Homo sapiens: one gene and its partners. The protein of the gene in region 1 interacts with the protein of each later gene in a biochemical or structural test. Each region holds a gene or a part of one and is shown in the gene's direction. Other genes may lie near its edges.

Region 1 (7,020 bases):
GGCTCTTCCGAGGACTGCAGAACCCTCCCACTCCCAGCTTCCCACCTGCGCAGCTCTGATCCCAGCCAGCCCAAGGGGCAGGGTCAGGTCCCGGCTCCCTGGCAGGCCTGGTGAAGGTGCTGCCCATTCCCATGAGGCTCATCTCTGAGGCTTAGGGGCCTGGGGCTCTAGCCAGCCTTCTTGCATGGAACTCTCCTGGTCCACTGCATCTTAAGCCTGAGCTCCACTTAAACACTGGCCTGAGATAAGCTGGAGGACCAGGGGCCCAACGGACTCTGTGGGCCTCTTGAACTTGCCTCTGCTGGCCATCCCAGTCCTGTTTGGTCCCTGAGGTGTTCAGATGGGCCAAGGGGAGCATGGCGGGCAGACTCCTGGGTGGCCAGAAGATTAGAAGGCAGCCCTGTCCCTGGAGGCAGGGGAAGTCTGGGAAGCCAGTGTGACTTCTATCCTCTGGAAGTCTGAGTCCCTGCTTGGCCTTGACTGCCATCCCATGGTTCTTGGAGGCTGCCCTCATGCAAAGAGACACACACCCATGGGAGCCCAGCAGTCCCAGGAGCCTGAAGCTAAGCAGGCTGTGGGCCACCCTGGCTGGCTGAAGGAGGCTAATCCCAGCCCAGCCTGAGCCCCCGGCAGAGAGCGGGTTGCGGCAGGGAGGGGCTGCAGGAAACCTTCCCCTCCCCTCCTGGCCTTGGTGGGCCTGTACCAGGGAGGGAGGGAGGCAGGGCCCCAGGCTCTGGGGGGCAGGCCGGGAACACCTTCCCTGGGGCCCTGAAGTGCTCGCCTGGGGAGACGATGGCTTTTCCAGGAGACTCCCTGCAGACAGAGGCAGAGGTGAGAGGCTGGGCGGGGGCTGCCCTGCTGGCTGTGTTGGGGCTGAGGAGGGGCTTCTGGATCTGTGGGCCATAGGGAGCTACTGATGGTCCTCAGAAGGGCCATGCTTCCAGGGGAGCCCCCTGCACAGCCCCGAGAGTGTGAAGCGTGTCAGCTTTGGGGCCTGTGGCACTGTGTGCATTGGGAGAGGGTGGGTCCAGACATGGGGGCAAGGACACAGACGGACAGACAGACAGTGTGTGCAGCCCCAGCTCTGCTGTTTCCTCACCGTGTGGCCTTGGGCAAGAGTTTGGGGCCAACTTCCTGAGCCTCAGTTTACCCCTTCATCAAGTTCTAAGAGCATTGCTTCCTTCTTATAGTCAACGGGGGACGGCAGGATGCTAAGTAAAGAAATCACATGAGTCCCCTGCTCTGCCTCTGAGAGGTGACAGCATCCTCCCTTTTCCTTGGAGACTCTAGCAGGAGGCCCCGGATCTCTTCGGAGAGTGGGAGGGGGCAGCAGTAGTCCGTGTGCAGAGGACCAGGAGCGCACAGTGGGAAGGGCTGAGTCCCGCACTCCGCCGACTGTGGGGACAGGCTGGACCTTGACATGGGCGCCACAGGCTGCAAAGGGCTGGCACAGAGAGGTGGGAGGTGGCTGGGCGCATCAAGGGAGAACTCCACCCTTGTCGCCACCCTGCCAGAAAACCTCTGGAAAGGATTTGAGCAGCAGATGAGCCGGGGTTTCCCAGCCCCTCCACACGTGGCTGCAAGGGGAGCAGACGCCCAAGCGTGGCTGCCTGAAGGGCATGCTCCGGCAACGGCAGGGGCTTGGAATGTGGCACAAGGTCCACCCCTCCCCACTCCAGCCCCCAGCCCCTCAGGCAGCCACTCCCACAGATGAACGCACACGCCGGGCTTTGGCAAGGCCAGGGAGGGTACACATCCCCTCTCTGGTTGATGCCCAAGTACAGGCTGGAGCCATCGGCGGGGAGGGACTGGTGGACTGGGGCCTGGGAGAGTGGCAGGGGGCAGGCCGGGTGTCAGCGGGGGCACAAGCACCAGGCTGCTGGTTGAAACTGGGCCCAAAAGGCTTTGGAGGCCAGAGGGGAGGGGAGGAAGGACACAGTCCCGGGGACCCCGCAGGGCTGCGTGGAAGGTGGCACATGTGTCAGAGTTCAGGTCGGGTTGCTCAGGGGGGCAGACGCCCAGGGCTGAGGCTGCGGAGACAGCATCCGGCGTCTGCCACTTGGCAGCTGTGAGCCACACCATCTGCAGGCGAGCTCCCAGGGCCCGCCAGACCTCAAGCCCTGCTCCCGCCGCCCTTGGCCTGGCCTGAATGCCTGGCACGGACCCTCCATGTTCTCAGAGGCTGCCAACGCATCTTGTTTGGCTGTGACCTCGAGCAATCCAGTGCAGAGGACTGCGCTAGCTTTCAGAGGGGCAGACAAGGAGGGCCCTATTGGGGTGGTGGCGGAGGCTCCAGGAAGCCCAGCCTCCTCCCTCACTCACACCTGCGGTCGCCAAACCTGGGGCTTATGCCATTGCCGCCCCTGTCCTTTGCTCTAAAGAGATGGTATCCAGGGAGCTCAGGGCACACTTTGGTGGGGCTTGAAACCCTCCCTGAAGTCCCTGAAGACACACCCAGAGAGGCCAATGAAGGGAAACTGAGGCCCAGAGGCCTCAGTTGTGGTGGTGGAGAGTTGAGGACTGGAGGGACTTGCTGTGGGTCTCACAGGATCTGACTATGGGGTATTCCTGCTTCCTGGGCTGGGGTCCCCGCCTGCCTTATCTATGTGTGGATATATGTGTATGTATGTGTATATGTATACATATGTATATGTGAATGTGTGTATGCATGTGTGTATAGATGTGTGCATGTATGTGTGTACATATGTGTATGCGTGTATACAGGTGTATATGTGCAGGTATGTATGTATGTATGTGTGCATGTATGCATGTGTGTGTGTGTGTACGTGTGTATAAATGTGTATGTGTGCGTGTGTGTGCATGTGTGTGCATGTGTGTATGTGTGCATGTGTGCATGTGTGTATACATGCATGCATGTGCGCATGTGGATGTACATGTGCATGTATGTGTATAGATGTGTGCATGAGTGTGTGTGCATCTGTGTATATATGTGTGTATATGTGTATCATATGTGTATGTGAATGTGTATACATGGGTATGCATGTGTGAGTGTCTAGGTGTGTGCATGTATATGTGTGTACATGTGTGTATAGGTGTGTGCACGTATATGTGTGGATGTGTGCATGTATGTGGATGCATGTGGATGTGTGTACATATGTGTTTTGTATAGGTGTGTGCATGTGTGTGTGCACGTGTGTACATATGTGTTTTGTATAGGTGTGTGCGTGTGCACGTGTGTGTATGTGAGCGTGTATGTGTGCATCTGTGTGTGTGTTTGTGTGTGTATGTGTGTACGTGTGTGTGTGTGCATGTTCTGGCAGGAGGGAGGGGCTTGGTGTGAGGTGGTGGGGAGAAGGCAGGGGCCAGGCTTTGGGAGGACAGCTGAGCCTATACTGCCAGGACCTCCCAAACTGCCACCCCCAGTCTTGGGCATTCAGGCTCTCACAGGCCCAGAGACATGGCTGGAGCCCTGTGGCTGAGGAGCACAGCTGAGAGCTCAGGCGGGGCCTGGAGGCGCCAAAGCTGAGTTCCAAGTCAGGCTGAGTGACTTGGGAGAAATCAGAGCCTCTCTCTCGGCCTTAGCTTTTGTGTCCATAAAATGGGGATACTCATCAGGCCAGCTCCAGGGGATCCTATCCTTCCCCCCAGGCTCCCCTGGCTCCCTCTGACTTCATGGGCCCCTTGCTGCCTCCTGTGGGCTCAGACACGGAGCCTGCCCCTTCCTCGGGAGAGGTCTCAGTTTTGTGCCAGTTCTTTGAGGGGAAATGAGGGATGTGCCGGGAAGCCTGCCCGGCCCCCGCCCCTCCAGCCTGCCCACTGCTTGGGCACAGCCATGAGCCATGGAAAACCAGCCAAACCTTGTCCTTCTGCCTCTGTCACGGGGCCCGGGTGTATGGGCCTTCCAGCCCTCAGCCTCCCTCCCCGCTCTGAGGGAACCTCTTCCCCTTGCCCCTTTCTCAGTCTCTTGGAGACCCCCCAGACATCCTACTGTATCAGGCAGCCTGCCTCCAGAGCCCTCGTTGCCCCACAGCTGGTCCCGGGAACCCGCCTGAGACCCCGATGGCCAGTCTTGCCGTGACTGGCCTGCCCTGTGCCTGTGCCCCCTGCCCTGGTGGAGGGCCCGATTCCCTAACAGGAGGGCCTGCAGGGAAGTCCCAGCTCCTGGGGAGACCCCTTGCCCCGGGGCAGGAGTCCCTGTAGAGTCCTCCTCCAGGCCAATGCGTGGGTCCTGGGGGGCTCCAAGCTGGCCATGGTCAGATGGTCCTCTGTCCCCTCGGCCTTCCCCAGCCCCTCCCCACAGCCTCCCGTAGGCCCAGCCGGACCACCCCAACCCTACCTGTCCAGGTGGACTGCCCACCCTGGAGCTTGCCAGGGCTCTGGCGGGGTGTCCCAGCCCTGACTCACTCTCCCTGGGAGGTAGCGGCTTTGGCAGGGGCATCGGCAAGGAGGGGCAGGGCAGTCTCCTCCCTCCCCCACTCCATCTTGCTCTCCTGCTTCCACCCTGCCCTTCCTGTTCTCTCCCACTGCTCCTCCTCCTCCTCCTCCTTCTGCCCCCGGGTGTCCACTGGCACTGGGAGAGGGTCCTACAGCGGCAGCAGGCATCGGAGGCCCTGCCCTGCCCTGGAGGAAGGGAAACACCATCCAGGTAGGTGAGTGTTGAGCCTTCTCCCTACTTGGGGGCCAAGACCCTCCGGGCGGTTCCCCTAGGTTCTGCTGGGCCGGCCTGAGGCTGGCAGGCCCTGGGCTGCAACTGTGGGATCTCAAGGCTCAAAAGAATGAGGGAGGCTCGGTGCTGCCCCAGCAGGGGCCTCCTGGTGACCCCAGGGGTCAGCATGAAGTCCAGCTCCACATGAGGGGGAAGCTGAGCTAAGCCTTGGGCTCCGACTCCCACTTTGCAGTGTGGCCCAGGGCCTGTGGGCTCAGGAGGGCTCCGGGGCTGGCTGCGGAAAGGCCACTCCACAGGCCTGGCAGCCGCTATAGCCACAGCCTCACCACAGGCCCCTCTGTCCACAGGTGTGGGAGGGCGCATGGGTGGCTTCTAGGGGGGATGCCAATGCAGGGGGGACGCGTGCCAGCAGATGCTCCCTGGAGCACCCGAGGAGCTGCATGGGGGCGACAGGACAGGCCTCCATCCCAACCCTCTCCTGGGCTTGTGCTCAGACCCAACCTGGCCCTGAAGTGGCCTCAGGCCCCCGGCCCGCTGGTAGCAAGGACTCCAAAGCGGCAGCCCCGGGCAGCCAGCCCAGCCCCCAGGGCAACTGGGGAAGCATCGGGCAGGGCGGGGCTGCTCATAGGGTGCTGGCCTGGGGGCAGAGCCCCCACCTCCCCACGGCCTCCTTAGACCCCTGCAACCAGCAGCTGGGCTTAGGGGGCTCACCTCGCTCTGCTGGAGCCCCAGACAGCCCCTCCCCAGCTAGTACTGGCCCTAAGTGAGGGTCTCCTGGGCGTGCGACTGCTTCAGGTCTGCCAGAGGCCCCTGCTGCCCAGCTGGGCTCCCCATCTCCAGATGCACCGAGGGCCACCCCAGGCTGGGTGGCAAGCAGGGCAGGCATGTTTATTCCCACTTAACAGATGGGGAAGGTGAGGCTGGGATGAGACCTGGGCCTTTGCTGGAGAGTCAGGGTGGATGAAGTGGTGAGAGAGGCAGGGCTCCAGCCTCTTCCTGTAGGGCACATTCCCGGCTGCCTCTGGACGGGAGACCGTGTCTGATGAGGAGGGAGGAGGCAAGCAGAGGTGGGTGCTGGGGGCAGGCTCGGGCAGGGCTGCTTCGCCTCCACTCCCACTCGCCGCCTCGGCCTGGGGGGCCTCAGGCAAGCCTGACCCTGCCCTGCCACCCTGGCGGCAGCCTGCTCCCCTGGGGGGCCTCTCTGGGCTGCCGAGGCTGTGGGCAGGGAGGAAGGGTGCGAGCAGATCTGGGAGCTCCAGGGCTGTTTGGGCCAAGGCGGTGTGGGCGGGGGGCTGGGGCGGGTGGTCCAGAGGAGGAAGCCAAGGCCCAGGGGCAGTGTTGGGGGCGCCACGGCCTCCACCTCGGGGGCCTCCACTCAGTGCTGCCTCAGCCAACTTTACCCACGGCCTCCAAGGATACCCCCTCTTTCTCCGCCCTGCCTCCCTACCTTGGCCTTAGAGGGTCTCTGAGAAACGTGGGCAGGGTGGAGGGAGGAAGCAACTCAGAGTCGCCGCACTCAACTAACTTCATCCACGCTGCCCTGAGCCCAGAACTCAAAGGAAGGATCGGCCCGGGTAGGAGGCCACAGTGATGTCCCCAAAAGTGAATTCTTCAAAGCCCTTGAGGGCCAATGGCTAGGATTCCTCCTCCACCTCCTCCACGCAGCCTCATGGACGCCCCCGCCCTAAAGCAGGCTTCTGGCAGACTCAGAGGCGTGGGGGCCTGCAGACTTGCTGATGAGGAGACATTTCATCGCCTGATTAAGCCAAGTCCTGTCCGGGATGGGGAGGGGGGTAGTGGAAGCAGTGAAGGGAGTGGAGTGGAGGGGGCACCCTCCTTGCCAGCAGCATCCACTCCCTTCCTGCCTGGAGCCCTCTGCCCACACTCCGCCCTCTCCGCCTCCCGCTCCAGGGTCTGGCCGTCCCTGGTGAGGGATGGGAACGCAGTGCCACCACACACGCGGAACACCAGCCCCTGGCATGGAGAAGACAGGTGGGTGCTGGTGCTGATGATCCCCTCGCCTCTTCCCCCAGGTCCATCCGCCATGTGGCCCCTGTGGCGCCTCGTGTCTCTGCTGGCCCTGAGCCAGGCCCTGCCCTTTGAGCAGAGAGGCTTCTGGGACTTCACCCTGGACGATGGGCCATTCATGATGAACGATGAGGAAGCTTCGGGCGCTGACACCTCGGGCGTCCTGGACCCGGACTCTGTCACACCCACCTACAGCGCCATGTGTCCTTTCGGCTGCCACTGCCACCTGCGGGTGGTTCAGTGCTCCGACCTGGGTTTGTCCCTGAGTGATGGGGAGCGGGGCATGCAGGGAGGCTCAGGTGCAGCCTGAGAGCCCCTTCTGAAGGGGACACATGCTGGTCCTGTGGGACGGTGGCGAGCATGAT
Region 2 (7,020 bases), on another chromosome or scaffold:
AGGCAAATGGCCCTACATGTGACTTGGGGTCAGCTGGGGGTCCCAGACCAGGCTCTTCAGCTCACTGGTTCTCCATTTCCCTGGCTGCAAAATGGGGAGAAACAGCCCTGCCTGAAGTACCTCCTAGGGCCAGTGAGAGCTTCTAGCAATGTAATATCTGGGGGGAAAAAAAGCATCAAATAAAAGGACCGTGGGAATGGGCATTTTTAAAATAATCTATTCTCTTATTCAGAGTCTGCTAATTTGGGCTCATGGATCCTTGTAATTAGTGCACATTGCTAAGGTTTAATACTCCCTCTCACTACTTACACCATGTTTTGTCTAGTGGAGGGGCAGCTAATGTGTAAATAGATGTGCAATGATGAAAGAAGCAGACAGGACTCGGTTGGGGGTGGCCAGAAGGAGCCTTGAGAAATCCAGGAAGGCTTCCCAGCAGAAGTGACATTTGAGTTAAACCTAAAGAGAAAAGTAAATGGGGCCAGGTGCAGTGACTCATGCCTGTAATCCTAGCACTTTGGGAGGCCCACATGGGCAGATTGCTTGAGCCCAGGAGTTTGAGACCAGCCTGGGCAACATAGGAAGGCCCCCGTCTCTATTTAAAAAATAAATGAATATTTAAAAAGAAAGAAAAAGAAAGAAAGAGAGAGAGAGAGAGAGAAAGGAGAGAGAGAGAGACAGAAAGAAAGAAAGGAAGGAAGGAAAGAAGGAAGGAAGGAAGGAAGGAAGGAAGGAAGGAAGGAAGGAAGGAAGGAAGGAAAATGTTGGAGGACCTGTCTGTGGATGAGGGGTAAGTCCCCAGACTACAGGCCCTGGCAGGCAGAACTGAAGAGACAGAAGAGCAGATTCTCGATTGGAGGAAGCCCTGTCTGCAGTTAGTGCTGACAGCATTTGGAGGTGGTGATTTTCCCATCATGGGAGGTATGCAAGCAGAACACGAAGGATGTTTGTGGAAGGAGGTCCAGCCCAGGCCAGAAGACTATTATGATCCCTGAGAGTCTAGGATCGTGATTCTAAGATGCAAGAGACAAGTTCCACCCTGGGCTAGTCGGTGAAACATGCCAAAACCACATAAAACAAGACAAGTGTTCTCCAGGCCAACTGCTTAGGGCCAGCTGAGCAGCACAGTCAGGGAGAGCCGTGGGCTCGGGAAAGGCAGGCGGGAGAGTCTGAGCTCAGCCCTGGTGCGGGGGTAGGACTTGGACAGAGGCAAGGACATTCCTGGCAGGAGAAACGGCTTGTGCCAAGGAGTGGAGGGAGAAGTGAGGATCGCCACGGGGCCTGGGGAAGCAGCTGTTACCTTTTCAAAGTCCTTTCCAATTTCCAGCTGCTGTCATTTTATTCTCACCTCTCTCACTTGCAGAGAGGCAGGAATCCTTCGTAGCCCCTAAACCTTCTCCATTTCCTCATTGCAAAGTGGGGATTAAAACCTCGGGCTCCCCAGGCCGTCAGGTTCAGGCATGAAGTTTGGCAAATGCCACCATCATCAGGGTCTGAACGGTGGGGGTGGAGAGTGGGGACAGAGGAGATCTGGGGGAGGGGAAGCTAAGTCTTCCCCCCAGAAAGTGCCTGGGGTGCAGGAGGGCAGAACCCCAGGAGAAAGGAAGTCAGGGTTCAGCCAGGCCCAGGGGCTCAACAAGCCCAAGGCAGGGGGACTCCCAGGGCAGATGGGGATGAAACAGGTTAGAGCTGGATTCACAGACAACCACCCTGCCACCCCTCTACTTAATTCACCCATCATGTATTGAGTAACTACTGCATACCTGGCCCTGGGCCACGGACTGTGCAGTGAAATGGGAAAAAATGAAACGTAAGTGCCACTGTCTTTTTATTTTTGAGCAATTACTGTCTGCCAGGTCCAGAAGAGGACATAGCCTATTACTTGAACCCTTTTACAACTTGCAGCAACCTTGCAACCTTGCAGCAACCTTGCAACCTTGCAACAACCAAGTGATTATCTGCCCCATGTCACAAAAAAGGAAACCGATGTTCAGAGAGGTTGAGTGACTTTCCCAAGGTCGCACAGATGGTAAGAAGCAGCGAAGGCAGAATTAGAAGCCAGAGGGGTCTGTTCTGAGCACTTTGCTCTTCCCCCCACCTCCACCACACTGTTCCCTGCAGTCTGCTCTGGAGCCAGAGAGTAGAGAGGAAGGGAGAGAGGCACGTGAAGAATGAGGGAGAGGGGGAGAAAGAGGAGGAAGGAGAGAGGCCGAGGCAGAGAAAGACGCATAAGAGACTGTTGAGAGCTGGAGGCCGGAGCCAGGGAAGGCATCAGAGGCCCGAGGCGGGCCATGTGTGTGCTTGGCAGCGGATGACAGGGCCCAAGTGCTCCTTCTCAGCAGGCCCAGCCCCCCTGGGGCCACCACTCCGAGCCTTGAGGTTCTGACCAGATTACTTGCACACTTCAGGCCTGGACTGCAGTGCCTGAGGAGCCACAAGCCCTGGGAGGGGGTGGCGCCGGGGTCTTGGCTCCGGTGGCTGTGACAGCTCCACAGCCCTGACCCTGCTGGGCTGCAGCTGAGGCTGACAGGGCCCTGGGGCCAGCAAGCCCAGCTGTGCAGCGTCGCCAGGCCTCAGAGGCCAGACGTCTGGCCGCGAGGCCTCCCTGGACACATTGCAGAGACACCCGTTCCCCCAGCCCCGCCCATGCCCCACGGGGCTCCCGGCCCCTTTCAGCAAAAGCAGTAAGGGAGGGCTGGGCTGGGGCGTTGGCAAGGTGGCTTGTCAAGCTCAGAGGGGGGCCTTCTGAGGTGGAGGCAGGGCCCCCGGTTTGGGACCCTGTCTGTTGCCATGGCGATGGCTCAGGCAGGGTCTGGATCCAGCATCACAGCGTTCCCCAGTGAGAGCTTCACTGGTCCATGGGGACTGAACTCGTGATCCTGTCTGGCCGGTGAATTCGCTTTTCCTTAGGAAACTATTCACTGTGCTCATTCATGGCGTCCCCCTGCGGCCCCGGCGCCTCCTAAGACAGCCCGTGTCAGACGGCCAGAGCCCCACCCAAGCTCGGCTGCCCAGTGGCTGAGGACGCTGACCTCACGCCGTCCTATCAGTGTGGGAATGGCTGCATTTGTGCTGGCAGCTGCACCTCCTTAATGCTCGCTGTAGCAGCCCAGCCTGCCCTTCCCAAAGCTCTGGCCTCTACCCGGCAGCTCAGCTCGGGAAGGGAGTGGGCTGCCTGGTGAGAGGTGCTCAGACCCAGTGTCTTCCACCCCAGGCCCTCTCCCTGACTCCAGGGAGAACCAGGTAACACAGCAAGAACAATCATACTCTAAGGACTGGCAGCAGGGCGCAGGGGCCTGTCATCCTAGCACTTTAGGAGGCCAAGGCAGGAGGATCGCTTCCAGGAGTTCCAGACCAGCCTGGGGAACATACTGACACCCCATCTTTACAAAAAAATCAATTAGCCAGATGTGGAGGTGCACGCCTGTAGTCCCAGCTACTTGGGAGACTGAGGCAGGAGAATCGCTTGAACCTAGGAGGCAGAAGTTGCAGTGAGCTGAGATCTTGCTACTGCACTCCAGCCTGGGTGACAGAGCAAGACTCTGTCTCAAAAATAAAGCACTGGCCTGAGCTTCAATCCAGGCCCCGTCTCTTTCCAGCTGTGTGGCCCCAGGCATGTCCCTTAACCTCTCTGAGCCTGATTTCATGTCTTAAGATGATAGTCTCTGGGAGCGGTGGCTCACACCTGTAATCCCAGCACTTTGGGAGGCCGAGGCAGGCAGATCACTTGAGGTCAGGGGTTCAAGACCAGCCTGCCCAACATAGTGAAACCCTGTCTCCACTAAAAATACAGAAATTAGCCGTGCTTGGTGGCATGCACCTGTAATCCCAGCTACTCAGGAGGCTGAGGCAGCAGAATCGCTTGACCCAGGCAGACGGAGGTTGCAGTGAGCTGAGATCCCACCACTGCACTCCAGCCTGGGTGAAAGGCCAAGACTCCGTCTCAGTCTCAAACAAAACAAAATGATGATAGTAAGCCCTGCCCTTCCAACTTCACAGGCCGATTTCAAAGAGCAAGAATGAGAACACACTTTGTAAACAGAAACTGCTCTGGAGACAAGCAATGTCATTATTGCCATCAGCATTATTCTTGTTTCCATGTAATTGTGGGTTTTGCCATTGAAAGTAATGGCAAAAATCGCAGTTACTTTTGCACCAGCCTAATAGTTCTGGCTCCTGGAGGACTGACTCTACCTGTTTCCTTTCAGGGGTCCCTGGGGCCATTCCTGGTGGAGTTCCTGGAGGAGTCTTTTATCCAGGTAACGTACATGAAACTTCCACACACCCAGGTCATGCGGATGATGCTGATGTCCATAATAGATGCACATTTTGACACTACAGAAGGTAGGAACATTGACACGCCTACCAGAAGTCACACCCACTTAAAAATGCAATTAACAAGACATTGATTTACAGCTATTAAGAGCATACAGGCTGGACATGGTGGCTTATGCCTGTAATCTCAACACTCTGGGAGGCAGAGAAACAAGGATTGCTTGAGGCCAGGAGTTTCAGACCAGCCTGGACAACATAGTGAGATCCCCCTCTCTACACACACACACACACACAAATTTAAAATTAGCCATGTTCTGCATTGAGAAAAATGAAAATGAAGTATAGAAATTAAAAAAAAATTAGCTGGGCATAGTGGTGCACGCCTGTAGTCCTAGCTACTGGGGAGGCTGAGGCAGGAGGATCACTTGAGCTTAGGAGTTCAAGGCTGCAGTGAGCTATAATAGCACCACTGCACTGAAGTCTGGGTGACAGAGTAAAACCCTGTCTCTAAAAAGAAAAGGGGAAAAAAAGAAAAGAAAAATCAAAAGTAATACTTTCAATACTTAAAAAGTATTTGAGGCCAGGCACGGTGGCTCAAGCCTGTAATCCCAGCACTTTGGGAGGCTGAGGCAGGCGGATCACAAGGTCAGGAGATCAAGACCATCCTGGCTAACACGGTGAAACCCTGTCTCTACTAAAAATACAAAAAATTAACCAGGTGTGGTGGCGAGAGCCTCTAGTCCCAGCTACTCGGGAGGCTAAGGCAGGAGAATGATGTGATTGAACCCAGGAGGCGGAGCTTACAGTGAGCCGAGATCGCGCCACTGCACTCCAGCCTGGGCGACAGAGGGAGACTCCGTATAAAAAAAAATTAAAAAATTAAAAAAAGCATTTGAGTGTACAGAAGTGACCTGGAAGTGGGGAGAGACGCCAGCACTCCCCCAGATACATACTGACACTGGACTACTGGCCAAGCAGAAGAGAAAACCGAGGCTTGCAGAGAGCAGGTCTTGCCCAAGGTCACGTAGTTAGGCAGAGGTGGATTCAGCCATAGCTGGGGGTGGCAGCGGGCTTGCCTGGCAGAAGTACCGATGATCTCTCTTTCTCTTTCTCTCCCCCCACAGGGGCTGGTCTCGGAGCCCTTGGAGGAGGAGGTGAGCTCAGAAACCACACTTGTTCATCACTGAAAGGGCCTGGGTTTCACCCGAGCCACATGCATCCTCAGACCTGAGAACCCTGGGAGACCCGAGCATCAAGGACTCCCTCATTTCACAGACAGCATCCAGGCGGTGGGAGGAGGCTTCTTTGAGAACCAGAACCCATTGGCCTTCCCAGTCCCTCCCCTAGACTTTATGTCTGGTGCCCTCTGCCTTCCTATTTCTTCTTTTTTTTGGTGGGGGAGGACGGGGGGACAGAGTCTCGTTCTGTCGCCCAGGCTGGAGTGCAGTGGCGTGATCTCAGCTCACTGCAGCATCTGCCTCCCAGGTTCAAGTGATGCTCCTCCCTCAGCCTCCCAATTAGCGAGGACTACAGGCGCGTGCCACCACGCCCAGCTTATTTTTGTATTTTTTCTAGAGACAGGGTTTCATCATGTTGGCCAGGCTGGTCTCGAACTCCCAACTTCAAGTGATCTGCCTGACTCGGCCTCTCAAAGTGCTGGGATTACAGGCGTGAGCCACCTTGCCCGGCCCCTTGCCCGGCCCCTTCCTATTTCTTTTTATCCTCAAAAACCTCCCTGCCAAGCCGGCTGAGCAGGCACCATCTTCTTTTTTTTTTTTTTGAGACAAAGTCTTGCTCTTGTCACCCAGGCTGGAGTGCAGTGGCGCGATCTCAGCTCACTGTAACCTCCACCTCCCAGGTTCAGGTGATTCTCCTGCCTCAGCCTCCTGAGTAGCTGGGATTACAGGCACATGCCACCACGCCTGGCTAATTTTTGTATTTTTAGTAGAGACAGGGTTTCACCATGTTTGCCAGGCTGGTCTCAAACTCCTGACCTCAGATGATCCGCCTGCCTCAGCTTCCCAAAGTGCTAGGATTACAGGCGTGAGCCACCACCCCCAGCCCATCATCCCCTTTTGAGGCTGAGACTCTGGGACTCAGAGAGTATAAACCACGAGTTAGAAGTAGAGCTAGGTTCCCAGGGGCTCCAAGTCTGAGCGGGAGGACCTGGGGTGTGTGATTCCACACTGCCCACACTTTGCCCGGGTTGGGGGTTGGATAAGTAGTAGATGGATAAGCTGGGCCACCCCATTCACTATCTTCTCTTCCCTCTGCAGCGCTGGGGCCTGGAGGCAAACCTCTTAAGCCAGGTAAGACCCAAGGCCTCGGAGCATTGAGAGACAGCGAGGGAGCTGGGGAGGGAGGAGCCTACCCAGCTGGGAATGGGACAAGGAAACTAGGAACAGGACAAGGAAGCCAACGGGCAGGAGGAAGGAGGGAGGTGTGGACACCGATTAGCCTCCCAAGGATGAGTAGGCCGGGGCCAGGTCCCAGGGCTTCCAGGAACAAGAGGCTGGAAGCAGCTCCATGTCCTCCCTGTGTGAGGGCGTCTAGCATCTACCCTACATGTGCATGTGTGTTCACCCAGCTGTCCAGAGACTCCTCTCTGCAAAGGAGAGGCTGTTAGAGGCAACATCAGGGATTGCTCCGGTTCCAGTGGCCTCCAAGCCTTACATGACCCTCGGGAGCTCAGACACAGATCCTCAGCCCCAGACTTCCCCTGAGTGGTCCCCTAGCCCTTGACCCCAG
Region 3 (7,868 bases), on another chromosome or scaffold:
GTAGAGACAGGGTTTCGTCATGTTGGCCAGGCTGGTCTCGAACTCCTGACCTCAGGTGATCCGCCCACCTTGGCCTCCCAAAGTGCTGGGATTACAGGCGTGAGCCACTGCGCTTGGCCCCATTTAGCATTTTACACACATTGTCATGTCATCCTTCCAACAACTGTGGTACTATTCCCATTTTACAGATGAAGAAACCAAGGCTTAGAGGTTACACAAGTAGTCAGAGTGGGGCCGGATAGCTTTGACTCCAGCTTCGATGTTCCTAACCCTCCTACCCTCCTTTGGAGGACAAGGAGATGTAGGCTTGCCTGGGAGGCATTTGCTAGGGGGCAGCTCCCTCTCTCCCACCTTACCCCCTCCCCGTCCCACCCCAGCATCCTGGGACATGTTTGTGGGCAGTTCCTTCCTCAGATGAAATCCAGGCTCGGAGCCCACATCTCCCAGCCAGAACCACGCGCATCATCCCTCAGGGAAGGGTGGGTGCCTCTGAGCTCATCTCACCAGCGGGCCCCTGGCCAAGCCCCTCTGCTCTAGAGAGGCAGCTTGGCCGTCTGGCTCATCTGGGCAGGGGAGAACAGGAAAGACCGGCTGTTTCCTGCCTTCCAAAAGCCCTGGCCAACCTCATTCCTGGAACCCCTGGTGCTATCCCCAGGCCTGCCAGAGTAGGGGCTGAGAAAACGTTGAATCATGCTGGGGAGAAGGGATGTGGGTGTGAAGATGAAAGTCCTGCCAGGAGGCACATCACAGTGGACCTCTGCTCCTGGCACTGTGTTGCCAGCCAGCGACGGTTCAGGGTGGTAGATGCTGTTTAAGAGGAAGCCACAGAGAGGCCTGGGTTCAAATCCCTCCTCTACCCTTAGCTGATTATTCATGAATCTGTTGGACAGGTGTGTGCCAGGCACCAGGACTAACTCAACAAACTGAATAAAACGGGACAAAAACATGGTCTAACCCTGCGAGCAGTTCACCATCCAGCGTGAAAGCCTGGCAGGGAAGGAGCACATCTCCAAAGACGTAGTGGGAGCACAGCAACCACAGCCCCATCCCCTCCCCTGCCCAAAGAAACAGCCAGGGGAATGGGTAGAAGCAGCAGAGAGGACATGGGAGCCAGGACACGAATTGTCAGCTTTAGCCCCTCAGTTTCCCAGTTTTTCTTTTCTTTTCTTTTTTTTTTTTCAGACAGGGTCTTGCTCTGTTGCCCAGGCTGGAGTGCAGTGGTGCAATCGTGGCTCACTGCAGCCTCTACCTCCCCAGGCTCAGGTGATCCTCCTACCTCAACCTCCTGAGTAGCTGGGACTATAGGCCAGCACCACCACACCCAGCTAATTTTTGTATTTTTTGTAGAGATGGGGTTTTGCCATGCTGTCCAGGCTGGTCTCAAACCCCTGGGCTCAAGCGGTCCACCCGCCTTGGTCTCCTAAACTGCTGAGATTACAGGTGTGAGCCACTGCACCCAACCTCCCTCCTTTTTTCAAGGGTAGGGGACAGCATTTCTGCTGGGTGAGTTCCTCTCTTTTGCCAGTGGGATTGCTCCTGGCAGCAGTGGGGTCTAAGGGCAGGCAGAGAGGGCTGGGCTGGCCTGGCCTGAGGGCCCACCTCTCTCCAGGTGACAAAAGTCTCTGCTGCCCTGCAATAGACACTGGGGGGCGGGGCATGGGAATGAAGGAGGCACAGGGCATATTTACTCCCTCCCTAAGACTCAGAGTCTAAGGGAGGTGGGGGAATGACTGGCGATGAAGAGATCAGATGGCAAGGGTCTAAATCAGGGGCCATCCTCATCTCCTCCCAGCCCGCAGCCCCTACAACTCTCACTCCCGCCTCAGGCCTAGGCTCCTGGGCAGGGCTGAAGGCTGCCCCTCACGCAGAGGATCTGCACCCCCAGCCAGCTTCTCCGGGAAGAGTTTAGTGTACAGTTCACTCATTCATTCCACCAATGTTTGCTGAACTGCTGCTCTGAGCCGGGCTCTGAACTTAATGAGCAAAACTGAAGATGAGCAAAAACAGCCTTGGTCCTGGCCTTCACGGGGCAAGATGACAGTCTCATCGGGAAGAGGGACAGGGCTCAGATGGTCACAGACATAGGCCAACAAGACAACTGCAAGCAGTAAAGCTAGAAAGCACAAAAAAAGGAAAAAGGGAAGGCCCCTCTGAGGAAGGGAGGGTTTGATCTGTGACCCCATGGAGGAGACCTCAGCCAGTGCTCGGGAGGAAGAAACGCCTCAGTGTGGGAGGGAGAGGGGTTTGGGAGAAAACCCCCAAAGGCCAGTGGCTGGAGGAGGAAGAGGAGGCAGAGCCAGGCTGCCATAAAGGGCCGGGGCCCTGGAAGCCACAGGGAAGTTGAGCCTCTAACCTGAGTGAAAGGCGATCAGTAGAAGGGGCACGATCTGCGGGGGTGAGGGAGGCAGGACCCACGTGGGAGAGCCCAGAGTGGAGGCTATCGCAGAGCCCAGGCAAATGATGGTGGTGTCAACTAAATAAGAAATCAGCCTTTTGACCAGGTGCAGTGGCTCACGCCTGTAATTCCAGCACTTTGGGAGGCCAAGGTGGGTGGATCAGCTGAGGTCAGGAGTACGAGACGAGCCTGGACAACATGGAGAAGCCTCGTCTCTACGAGAAATAAAAAAAAAAAAAAAAATAGCCAGGCATGGTGGTGGGTGCCTGTAGTCCCCACTACTCTGGAGGCTGAGGCATGAGAATCGCTTGAACCCAGGAGGCAGAGGTTGCAGTGAGTTGAGGATGCACCACTGCACTCCAGCCTGGGAGATAGCAAGACCCTGTCTCAAAAAAAAAGAAAAAGAAAAAATCCACCTTTTGGCCAGGCACAGTGGCTCATGCCTATAATCCCAGCACTTTGGGAACCCAAGGCAGGCGGATCAGCTAAGGTCAGGAGCCTGGCCAACATGGTGAAACCCTGTCTCTACTCAAAAAAAAAAAGCAAAAATTAGCCTGGCATGCTGGCATGTGCCTGTAATCCCAGCTACCCGAGAGGCTGGGTTGGGAGAACCTCTTGAACCCGGGAGGTGGAGGTTACAGGGAGCCGAGGTCACACCACTGCACTCCAGCCTGGGCAACAGAGTTAAACTCCATTTCAAAAAAAAAAAAAAAATCAGCCATTGAAAAAATTAAAGTTAGTTTTATTGAGTCTTACTGAGGACTGCACCCTGGGAGAGGGTTTCAGAGAGTTTCTGTTAGACTGCGCCAAAGCAGCATTTCAGCCCACAGTTTAGATACAGAGGCAGGCGGTTCTGTGTGTGCTCAGAAGCTATGGTCAGGCACGGTGGCTCACGTCCGTAATCCCAGCACTTTTGGAGGCTGAGGCGGGTGGATTGCTTGAGCTCAGGAGTTTGAGACCAGACTGGGCAAACACGGCAAAACCCCTTCTCTACAAAAAATACAAAAAAAAAAAAAAAAAAAAAAAATTAGCCAGGCATGGCGGCTCTTGCCTGTAGTCCCAGCTACTTGGGAGGCTGAGGTGGAAGGATCACTTGAGCCCAAGAGGTGAGCTGTGATGGTGCCACTGCACTCCAGCCTGGATGACAGAGCGAGACCCGGTCTCATTAAAAAAAGAAGAAGAAAAATTTACATCAAATGTCTTCAGAAGCTACACTAGTGCAAATCTCGCCAAGGTTTGGGTTCGAGGATGCACCTAGTTATATAGATTATAGAGGCATAATCGTCAATCCTGTCAGGTGCTATCTTATGTACAGGAAAAGGCACAGCCAGGATCATTTAACTTATATTTTCTAACAATGCAGTGATTCAGGCAAGAGGCGTGGGAGCCTGTGTTCTGCCCTGCCTGCCATCTTCAAGGCATCCTTCCGTTGGGCTGCCCCCAGTCACTGAGTCAGGGCTTTGTCAGCTTCTGACAAGCAGAAAGAGCAAATGCGGTTTCTTGGGATTGCAACTTGGTCTCACAGTGGCTTAGGCCAGGGTGGGAGCAGTGAACGGAGTCACAAAAGAAATTTTTCAGGTAGCATTCACGGGTGGGTGCTGGATTAGATGCAGGGCTAAGGGCAGGGGAGGAAGCCTGGGTAATGGAAGGCTGCGGGGCCAAGGGGGGACTGGGAATCCTGGAGGGCCAGGTCTGGGGGAGAGTTAGGAGGTCGTGAATTTGGACTTGGATGCTTGTTGAAGCTGATGCATCTTGAGGACATTTGTGGGACACATAGGCTGGGTCAGGGCTGAAAGAGGTGCTGGTTATGGCCGGGGGCAGGGACTCATGCCTGTAATCCCAACAGCCCAGGAGGATGAGACAGGAGGAATGCTTGAGGCCAAAATTTCGAGGCCGGAAGTTCCAGACGAGCCTGGGCAACACAGCAAGACCCTGTCTCTAGAAAAGGAAAGAAAGAACCGCTGGTTGTGGAAGCCAGCCATGGCCCAGAGCTCAGCAGTGTAGGAGAGGAGGGTGCGGGCCTGAGAGAGGCAGCAGGCTTGGCTGGAGAGGCAGAAGGAAAACCAAGGCAGGAGAGTGTCCTGGAAGCTGGGAGAAGGCAGAGGGAGATCGAGGCTTACTTTCTGGCTGAGGGGCCTAGGGTGAGTCACTTTGGGAGGCTTGATTTCCTCCTCTGTGAAATGGGCAACACACCTACCCTTGCCCACCTCACCCCCCTCACCCCGTCGACGTCGAGTGAGGAGCAGCTGTGAGGAGGAGGAAGCTTTGCACAGACGTGAGGACGGCCCCGGGCGCCTCTACCCCGGGGACACCCCCCCCCCCAGGAGATGGAACCCCGAGGGCACGGCGTGGCGGCCCATGCGGGCAGCTCGCGTTAGGACCCAGCGGCTCCGGGGCTGGAGGGCGGGCGCCAGCCCCGTCGGGGGCCCGGAGGGGGACTCGGAGCGGGCCAAGGGGCGGCTCCGGCGGGCGGACTCGGAGCGGGCGGCGGAGTGACCCGGACAGGTAGGCGCGGGCCTGGCGCTTGGGGGCCCCGGGGGGCGGTCAGGGGCGTCGGCGGGTCCCCCGGCGCGGGGGCGAGGGTGCCAGGCTCTCTGGGTCCTCGATCCTGGGGCAGCCGCGGAGGTTCCTGAACCCCGCGCCTTCAGAGCGGAGGCCAAGGGGGCACCTGGAAAGTTTGGGGTTGCTCTGCAGAGAGAACGCGAATTGGGAAGGGCGGGGAGCCCGAGTTTGGGGGGAGCCAGAGGTGAGGTCGTCGGGGGATGGGACATCTTTTGTTCTCCCGGGGAGGTTGGAATGTGGCGGGTGGGGTGGGGGGGGGGGGTCCGGTGGGAATGGCCGAGACAGAGACGCAGAGAGACAAAGAGAGATCAGAGACGGGAGCGCGAGGGCGCGCGGAGCAAGTTTCCGCGGCTGATTGTTCCCAGCTGTGCGGCGCTGCAACATCTGGGTTTCTCCCGCCGGGACCCCTCCCCCTGAGCCCGGCTCTGGAGCCGGCAGAGCCCTCCCTCCGTCTGATGTCTGAGCGAGCGTCGGGGCCCCCTGTCCCCCACCTCCCAGGACGCAGGGGAGTCGGGGGTGGGGGAGGCCGCAGCTGTGGAAGAGGCCAGAGGTGGGGGTGGGGCAGCCTCCCAGGCAGGTCCTGGCCTCCCGCACGCCCCAAAACCCCTTCGTCTAGAAGAGCTCGGAGATGTGGTCCCGTGGGAGGAGTTCATGAACTCCACACTGACTTCTCTCTTTCCTGCCTCCCCGCTAGCCCGTGGGCCTCCTTCCCCCAATAAGCCTGGGTTCGGGGGCCAGTCCTAGGGGAGGAAGACTCCCCGCAGGGTACCGACAGGCATCCCCCAACACCTTGCAACCCCTCTTGCCCCAATTCAGCGCCTTCTGCTGAGCAGCGGGGGCTCCGACCGACCTGACGGATGGGGAGAAGGGCAAGGAAGGCTCTCTGGGTCTTTTCATCCCCCTCCCATGAGGAGGTCAAGGGTTTTCAGAATGGGGTGTGGGGAGCCAGCTATCCCTCGCCTCTGGGGCAGCTTGGTCCTGAGCTTCGTCTCCCGGCTCCCACTCCACCTTAGTGAGGTGCCTAATGCATGAGAGGAGCCAGGGGGTCAGGAGGCCTCAGGATTGAGAGGAAGGAGGGAAAGACCTCCTGCTTTCTCCCCTTTCCCTCCCCTCTCCCTGGACTCCCAGTGGGGAAAATAGACCAAAGTTGGGGTTTCCAGCTAGCTCTCTGAAAGGACTTCCTGGGTTGCAGCCGGGAGGGGCCCTCCTGGATGGACCCCGCCCTCGCAGCCCTCCCTACAGAAGGCTGACGGACCTGAGGTGGCCCTCCACTGAGCTGGGGCTGGATGTGGGGAACCGGAGGCTCCCCCAAGTCCCACCGTGTAGCCAGGACTGGAGGCTGGGCTCTTGAATGTCAGGAGCCTGATGAAAGCCACGGACCCCATGCCCTCTCCCTCCAAATGACACACACACTTGCCTACAGTGTCAGGGGGTGCAGAACCCCCAGCCTGGGTGATGTCACGGCCCCTTCAGTGCTGCCTTTCTGGGATCCAGAGGAGCCCCCTCAGGCTTCACTCTCGTGCTTCCTGCTGCTGCAAATAGCCCGGGTCTCGTGAGCCTGTGATGCACACAGCCAGGTCTTGCGAGGCCTGGAGGCCTGGCAGGAGAGGAGTCTTCTGGGAGCTGGGAGCCCTGCCCGGCCTGGCCGCTCTGGGGGCCGGGCAGGCCCATGTGTATGTGGTTTCCTGCTGAGCAGGATGCTTAGGGCCCAGGGGCTAATTGGGAGCAGGTGGTGGCTTGGCAGAAGCTGCTGAGTCCAGGCGGTGATGCCGGCTGGCCAGGGCTGGGGTCCCAAGGATGGGCCTGGGTTCAGTGATTCACGCAGTCAGTGCCTTGGACACCCAGGGAGCCACTGGGCCAGAGGGCTGAGCACGGGTGTGGGTGAGGACAGAATGGCCTGGGCTGGGAGCACATTAGGAATGTCCCCTTAGTGAGCAGGGCAGGGTCCGCCCTTCCCTGACCACATCAAGTACACCCACTACACGGGGTTTGCTTGTCAGGATCAGCCCTGGAGCTGGGTTGGAGGCCTTGTCCCTTGTGACCTGAACACCTGGGTGGGCCAGCAGGGACTGGGATGTCCCTCCACTCCAGCCCTCCCATGCCTGGCTTCTATTCTGGGTGCCACCTTCTCCAGGGCGAAATCAGGGGATCAAAGGTGAGCTCTGCTGTCCTGGGTGTGGCCCTGGGTAGAGCTCTCCCACCGGTCTTTCCCCAGCTGTCCTCTCTGACACCACCCCGGCCTGCCTCTTTGTTGCCATGAGAGCTGCCTACCTCTTCCTGCTATTCCTGCCTGGTAAGTGGCTCCTGGGGCAGGGGGTAGCTCCTCTTATGTGGGGCTGAGGAGTAGGGTTAGTAGGGGGAATTCATAGTGAGCCTTTGTCACGACTTATGACCAGAACTCAGCTCCCCAGCTCCCAGGGCCTTCTGCCTGCTTGGACCACAGACTGGACCAGCCAACCCTGGCAGCATCTGGAGGCAGCTCCTGGCCCTTCCCCCAGCCTTCCACAGCAGCAGGCAGGCAGGGTTCTGGAGGGCACGTCCCAGGCACAAGGACTCCGTGGGCACAAGGCACAAGGCCTCTCTGGGAGCCGATGTGCAGGTGCAGGGGCACCCAAGGCAGGGAGTCCGGATGCTTGAGTTCTAGATCCATTCAGGGCCCTTCTGCTCTATACAGTCCTGACCTTGTGGGGGTCCCTACTGGCCAAATGAAGAGAATCAATGAGGACCACAAAAGTCCTAGCAGGGCCAACATTCATTCATTCAGCAGCGATGTGTTGAGTCCCTACCACGTGCCAAGTGCTGGGCTAGGCCCTGGGGATTCAGCGATGAACCAGGCAGACACATCGTTGCTCCTCATCATGCTGCCAGTCCAGGGAAGGGAGACAAATAGGAAACAAGCAGACATGAGAAA
Region 4 (6,799 bases), on another chromosome or scaffold:
AATGTGTGTGGTGGGGGAAGGGAAGAGAAGAGTGCCTCTCTTATCTTTATTTTTTTCCTTTTAAAATTTCCACTTCCTAAAAACAAAATAAAACCCTTGTTAACCAAGTGCTCTCCCGTCACTGCAGGGCACGAAGGGCTACCCCGGCCTCAAGGGGGACGAGGGAGAAGCCGGGGACCCCGGAGACGATGTAAGTGTGGATGGGAGGCAGGGCCAGCCCCAAGTCCACCTGAGCCAGAGGGCTGGGCCCTTGAAGGGCAGTGGACCAGGACCCGCTTGGGGAGGCCTCATGGGCCCCGGCTGCTGGATGCTCTGTGGACGGGGCCAGCGCGCAGATGCCCGGGTGGTGCACGGTCTGTTGACACAACGCTGTTCCCTTCTAGAACAACGACATTGCACCCCGAGGAGTCAAAGGAGCAAAGGGGTACCGGGGTCCCGAGGGCCCCCAGGTGGGTGGATGTGGCTGGGTGAGGCCACGGTGGGCTGTGCCTGGGACGCCGGATGCTGGGGCTGGGGAATGCTGGAAGAGGCTGGGAGAGTGGGAGGCGGCGGGAGGGAATTTTGGGGAGCACGTCATCTGGGAGGCCCTGGGGGTGGGAGGTGCCGGTCACCAGGGCCAGGTGGTGGCCAGGGCAGCAGAGCCGAGCCCAGGGACACAGCGGGTCCTCAGGGTGGGGCCCACCTGGGATGGCCGCCTGGACCACCAGTGTGCGAAGCCCCAGCTGCCCTCACAGCACCGTCACTGGAGGACGAGGGGCTGGGTAGGGAGGGACCGGGCAGGGGTGGGCTTGATGAGGGGCAGGGCCCTGGGGGTGGGGGCTGTCTCAGCTCAGGAAGCACAGTGGGCTCCTCACCCTCAGAGCTCCTCTACTCCGTTTCTCGGACAGGGACCCCCAGGACACCAAGGACCGCCTGGGCCGGACGTAAGTGGGGCTCTGTGAACATTGCTGGGGGCGACCACTGTAGCTTCCATCCCTTGGGGTGTGGGTCCTGTCCATGGGTGCTCCTGTAGACGCTGCTCACGGGGGGGTGGGTTGTGGACAAAGAGCTGGTGCCAGGCCCTAGGGACCCGTGACGGCCATGGGAGGACCCGTGAGGATCATAGGGGGATGTGTGAGGACCATAGAGGGGACATGTGAGGATCATGGGGGACATGTGAGGATCATGGGGGGGACGTGTGAGGATCATGGGAGGACGTGAGGATCATGGAGGGGGACATGTGAGGATCATGGGGGACCCGTGAGGATCATGGGGGACCCGTGTGAGGATCATGGGGGGGGACGTGTGAGGATCATGGGGGGACCTGTACCCATGAGGACCATGAGGGGACCCGTGACGGCCACGGGGAGACCCATGACTGCGCTGTTTCTATGACCACGTCAGGGGTCCAGCCCAGTAGCAGGGGTGTAGTGGGCAGAGCCGGGCACACCTGCAAAGAACCTCCTGCCCAAACCCCGCCCTGTGGGGGCCCCAGGGAGGGTGACCTGGAGATCCAGCAGCCCACAGTCCCCGCTGGGAGGGGCTGTCTATGGCCCCAGTACCCTCGTCTCTCCCTCCCCAGGAATGCGAGATTTTGGACATCATCATGAAAATGTGCTGTGAGTATCTCTGAGAAGCCGTCCTCGTTAGGGAGAGCAGGGCCGCCAGCCTGGCCTGTTCCACTCCTAGAAGGGTGTCTCCACTGTTGGGGGCCTGGGTCTCTGGGTACATCCTTGAGGAGGCTCCTCAGCCAGCCCCTACCGGCCTCCAAAGCCCTCCCAGGCCCCCGGGTCCCCGCACAGGCTGAGAGTCCCCGGTGCGGTGCAGAGCTGCCACGTGGGGAGGGCGGCCGGGGAGGCGGGGAGGCGGGGCAGGAGGCCGGGGAAGGGGGGAGGCCGGGGAAGGAGGGCGGCCGGGGAGGCGGGGAGGCTGCCCCAAGAGTAAAAGCCTTTCTGACGTGCGCAGGACGCGGCCCTGACTGGTCTAACTGACTCTTTCTCTTCTCCTCAGCTTGCTGTGGTGAGACCCAGGCTCTAGCTCCTGAGAGAATGGATCCCGGGGGTCGGGGAGCGAGGCCTGGGTCCCACACATGTCACAGGACAGCACATGGCACTCTGGTCCCCGCCCGCAGCTCCCTGCACCTGCCCGCCCCCTCTGGGGCCTGCTCCAAGCCAGCAGGGTTCCCGGGTGTTGGGCTGGGCCCCGCCCTCTTTCACCCATAACTGAAATAACCAGGAGCAGGCTTGGGGGGGTCCCTGCTCCATCATTCTGGCCCACAGGCCCCACCCTAGCCTGGCTGAGCAACGCCAGCCCTGACCAGCCGCCGGACAGAGCAGCCTTTACGGGGCCATGGGAGGGGGTGGGCTTTTCTGGGGCTGAGACGGGGGGACCCCAACGTGTCAGGTGAGGATGTGGCAGCCAAGGAGGGGCCAGGGCGGTGGAGGGGAGGGGCCAGGGCACTGGAGGGGAGGGGCGTGCTCTGCTGACACCGCCCCCGCCTGCAGAATGCAAGTGCGGCCCCATCGACCTCCTGTTCGTGCTGGACAGCTCAGAGAGCATTGGCCTGCAGAACTTCGAGATTGCCAAGGACTTCGTCGTCAAGGTCATCGACCGGCTGAGCCGGGACGAGCTGGTCAAGGTGAGGCCTCGCCCCGCCCGGCTTTCTCAAGCCCAGGTGCACCCCGACCCTGCCGGCCGCCCCTGCCCGCGCCAGACCTCAGCCTCCCGAGGCCACCGCTGCATCCCTGTGACTTCCCTACTCATGACAAGGATGCCAGGCACGCGCCAGCCCGTCCAGGCCTCCAGCTCCACCTGGCGAGGCTGGCCCATTGTACACAGGCGCCCCAGATGAGGGAGGGTCTCCCCCTCTCCTTGAAGGGCGGTAGTCTGGGGTCCTGAGTGCTGGGTGTGGGCTTGTCCCTCGTGGACAGAACCCAGGAGGGCTTCATCCACCAAGGAAGATTGCTTTGCAGGGTACCCAGGTCCCGGGGGCTGTGCCACCCTCTGGGCACCCGGAGCCAATCGCAGGGTACCCAGGTCCCGGGGGCTGTGCCACCCTCTGTGCACCCAGAGCCAATCGCAGGGGACCCAGGTCCTGAGGTCCTGGGGGCCATGCCACCCTCTGGGCACCCGCAGCCAATAGAGTCACCCTTGGGAAGCTTATGCGGACCTGGGGCAGCACTCGCGTCCTGACCCCGGTGCCGGTCCCACAGTTCGAGCCAGGGCAGTCGTACGCGGGTGTGGTGCAGTACAGCCACAGCCAGATGCAGGAGCACGTGAGCCTGCGCAGCCCCAGCATCCGGAACGTGCAGGAGCTCAAGGAGTGAGTGCCCCACGCGGCCAGGACCCTCCCACCCCTCGCCCCGACCGCTGTTCCCACGGCAGGTCGGCCCTGACCCCTGATCCCAGGTGGGCTCGGCCCCGCGGCAGGCCTGGCCCCAACCGGCCCTTCCTGCCCTTTGCTATGCAGAGCCATCAAGAGCCTGCAGTGGATGGCGGGCGGCACCTTCACGGGGGAGGCCCTGCAGTACACGCGGGACCAGCTGCTGCCGCCCAGCCCGAACAACCGCATCGCCCTGGTCATCACTGACGGGCGCTCAGACACTCAGAGGGACACCACACCGCTCAACGTGCTCTGCAGCCCCGGCATCCAGGTGGGGTGGCCACCCCCAGGCTGCACCTGCCCCGCCTAGGGCGCCCCGCCAGCCAGGGTGGCCTTGTCCCCAGAAAGACGAGGGCAGAGCAGGCTGCGCCACACCGATACTGTCTGTCCCCACAGGTGGTCTCCGTGGGCATCAAAGACGTGTTTGACTTCATCCCAGGCTCAGACCAGCTCAATGTCATTTCTTGCCAAGGCCTGGCACCATCCCAGGGCCGGCCCGGCCTCTCGCTGGTCAAGGAGAACTATGCAGAGCTGCTGGAGGATGCCTTCCTGAAGAATGTCACCGCCCAGATCTGCATAGGTGCGCATGGGGCCACCCGGGCAGTCCCAGATCTGCGTAGGTGCGCGCGGGGCCGCCCGGGCAGTCCCAGATCTGCGTAGGTGCACGCGGGGCCGCCCGGGCAGTCCCAGATCTGCGTAGGTGCACGCGGGGCCGCCCAGGGCCGTCCCAGATCTGTGTAGGTGCGCGCAGGCGCCCAGGGCTGTCCCAGAGGCCTCCTCCCAGCTCACTGTTACCTCCAGGGGCACGGCCACCCTGTAGGTGCGCACGGGGCCGCCTGGGGCTGTCCCACAGGCATCCTCCTCCCGGCTCGCTGTGACTTCCGGGGGCACGGCCACCCCTGTGCTCGGCCGGGAGGTCCTGTGACATCTCCTTGCGGGGTTATAGGTGGAGCAGTGGGCTCACACTGCACGGCTTTTCTCTTTTACAGACAAGAAGTGTCCAGATTACACCTGCCCCAGTGAGTACCTCGGCGGCCGGGACACGTGGGGAGGAGGGCACCGTGGTTGGGGCGAGGGCTCTGAGAGGACGGGGCTCTGGGAGGAGGGCCTGGCGGTCACGAGAGTAGGTGCATGGCTCACTCCGGTGGCTGAGCACCACCGTGCCGTGCCCTCTCTGGGGAGCTTAGACGCTCTCTGGCCGGCCCACTGCGGCTGCATCACCAGGGCCTCATGCTAACGGCTGCCCACCCCGCCCCGCAGTCACGTTCTCCTCCCCGGCTGACATCACCATCCTGCTGGACGGCTCCGCCAGCGTGGGCAGCCACAACTTTGACACCACCAAGCGCTTCGCCAAGCGCCTGGCCGAGCGCTTCCTCACAGCGGGCAGGACGGACCCCGCCCACGACGTGCGGGTGGCGGTGGTGCAGTACAGCGGCACGGGCCAGCAGCGCCCAGAGCGGGCGTCGCTGCAGTTCCTGCAGAACTACACGGCCCTGGCCAGTGCCGTCGATGCCATGGACTTTATCAACGACGCCACCGACGTCAACGATGCCCTGGGCTATGTGACCCGCTTCTACCGCGAGGCCTCGTCCGGCGCTGCCAAGAAGAGGCTGCTGCTCTTCTCAGATGGCAACTCGCAGGGCGCCACGCCCGCTGCCATCGAGAAGGCCGTGCAGGAAGCCCAGCGGGCAGGCATCGAGATCTTCGTGGTGGTCGTGGGCCGCCAGGTGAATGAGCCCCACATCCGCGTCCTGGTCACCGGCAAGACGGCCGAGTACGACGTGGCCTACGGCGAGAGCCACCTGTTCCGTGTCCCCAGCTACCAGGCCCTGCTCCGCGGTGTCTTCCACCAGACAGTCTCCAGGAAGGTGGCGCTGGGCTAGCCCACCCTGCACGCCGGCACCAAACCCTGTCCTCCCACCCCTCCCCACTCATCACTAAACAGAGTAAAATGTGATGCGAATTTTCCCGACCAACCTGATTCGCTAGATTTTTTTTAAGGAAAAGCTTGGAAAGCCAGGACACAACGCTGCTGCCTGCTTTGTGCAGGGTCCTCCGGGGCTCAGCCCTGAGTTGGCATCACCTGCGCAGGGCCCTCTGGGGCTCAGCCCTGAGCTAGTGTCACCTGCACAGGGCCCTCTGAGGCTCAGCCCTGAGCTGGCGTCACCTGTGCAGGGCCCTCTGGGGCTCAGCCCTGAGCTGGCCTCACCTGGGTTCCCCACCCCGGGCTCTCCTGCCCTGCCCTCCTGCCCGCCCTCCCTCCTGCCTGCGCAGCTCCTTCCCTAGGCACCTCTGTGCTGCATCCCACCAGCCTGAGCAAGACGCCCTCTCGGGGCCTGTGCCGCACTAGCCTCCCTCTCCTCTGTCCCCATAGCTGGTTTTTCCCACCAATCCTCACCTAACAGTTACTTTACAATTAAACTCAAAGCAAGCTCTTCTCCTCAGCTTGGGGCAGCCATTGGCCTCTGTCTCGTTTTGGGAAACCAAGGTCAGGAGGCCGTTGCAGACATAAATCTCGGCGACTCGGCCCCGTCTCCTGAGGGTCCTGCTGGTGACCGGCCTGGACCTTGGCCCTACAGCCCTGGAGGCCGCTGCTGACCAGCACTGACCCCGACCTCAGAGAGTACTCGCAGGGGCGCTGGCTGCACTCAAGACCCTCGAGATTAACGGTGCTAACCCCGTCTGCTCCTCCCTCCCGCAGAGACTGGGGCCTGGACTGGACATGAGAGCCCCTTGGTGCCACAGAGGGCTGTGTCTTACTAGAAACAACGCAAACCTCTCCTTCCTCAGAATAGTGATGTGTTCGACGTTTTATCAAAGGCCCCCTTTCTATGTTCATGTTAGTTTTGCTCCTTCTGTGTTTTTTTCTGAACCATATCCATGTTGCTGACTTTTCCAAATAAAGGTTTTCACTCCTCTCCCTGTGGTTATCTTCCCCACAAAGTAAAATCCTGCCGTGTGCCCCAAAGGAGCAGTCACAGGAGGTTGGGGGGCGTGTGCGTGCGTGCTCACTCCCAACCCCCATCACCACCAGTCCCAGGCCAGAACCAGGGCTGCCCTTGGCTACAGCTGTCCATCCATGCCCCTTATCTGCGTCTGCGTCGGTGACATGGAGACCATGCTGCACCTGTGGACAGAGAGGAGCTGAGAAGGCAACACCCTGGGCTTTGGGGTCGGGAGCAGATCAGGCCTCAGTGGGCTGGGGCCGGCCACATCCACCGAGGTCAACCACAGAGGCCGGCCACAGGTTCTAGGCTTGGTACTGAAATACCCCTGGGAGCTCGGAAGGGGAGTTGAGATACTGCAGGGCCCATAGGAAGAAGTCTTGGGAGGCTCCACCTTTGGGGCAGAGGAAGAAGTCTTGGGAGGCTCCACCTTTGGGGCAGAGCAAGAAGAGGGCGGAGGGCAGAGGCAGCGAGGGCTCATCCTCAAAAGAAA

The links.
Region 2: the proteins of BGN (region 1) and ELN form a complex in vitro, tested with the Homo sapiens proteins (one study listed by BioGRID).
Region 3: the proteins of BGN (region 1) and MFAP2 form a complex in vitro, tested with the Homo sapiens proteins (one study listed by BioGRID).
Region 4: the proteins of BGN (region 1) and COL6A1 form a complex in vitro, tested with the Homo sapiens proteins (one study listed by BioGRID).

The regions. Positions count from the first base shown.
Region 1 is NC_000023.11:153,497,961-153,504,980, forward strand, and holds part of BGN (biglycan preproprotein), read left to right. Parts: intron 1-6,656; exon of another isoform or gene 6,657-6,660; 5' UTR 6,661-6,671; coding exon 6,672-6,909; intron 6,910-7,020. UniProt on the Homo sapiens protein: May be involved in collagen fiber assembly.
Region 2 is NC_000007.14:74,031,159-74,038,178, forward strand, and holds part of ELN (elastin isoform a precursor), read left to right. Parts: intron 1-4,205; coding exon 4,206-4,256; intron 4,257-5,396; coding exon 5,397-5,426; intron 5,427-6,548; coding exon 6,549-6,581; intron 6,582-7,020. UniProt on the Homo sapiens protein: Major structural protein of tissues such as aorta and nuchal ligament, which must expand rapidly and recover completely.
Region 3 is NC_000001.11:16,977,619-16,985,486, reverse strand, and holds the start of MFAP2 (microfibrillar-associated protein 2 isoform a precursor), read left to right. Parts: upstream 1-4,866; 5' UTR 4,867-4,900; intron 4,901-7,172; 5' UTR 7,173-7,213; coding exon 7,214-7,250; intron 7,251-7,691; exon of another isoform or gene 7,692-7,818; intron 7,819-7,868. UniProt on the Homo sapiens protein: Component of the elastin-associated microfibrils.
Region 4 is NC_000021.9:45,998,770-46,005,568, forward strand, and holds the end of COL6A1 (collagen alpha-1(VI) chain precursor), read left to right. Parts: intron 1-127; coding exon 128-190; intron 191-383; coding exon 384-449; intron 450-887; coding exon 888-923; intron 924-1,561; coding exon 1,562-1,598; intron 1,599-1,989; coding exon 1,990-1,998; intron 1,999-2,483; coding exon 2,484-2,617; intron 2,618-3,191; coding exon 3,192-3,301; intron 3,302-3,448; coding exon 3,449-3,632; intron 3,633-3,757; coding exon 3,758-3,941; intron 3,942-4,350; coding exon 4,351-4,380; intron 4,381-4,621; coding exon 4,622-5,244; 3' UTR 5,245-6,279; downstream 6,280-6,799. UniProt on the Homo sapiens protein: Collagen VI acts as a cell-binding protein.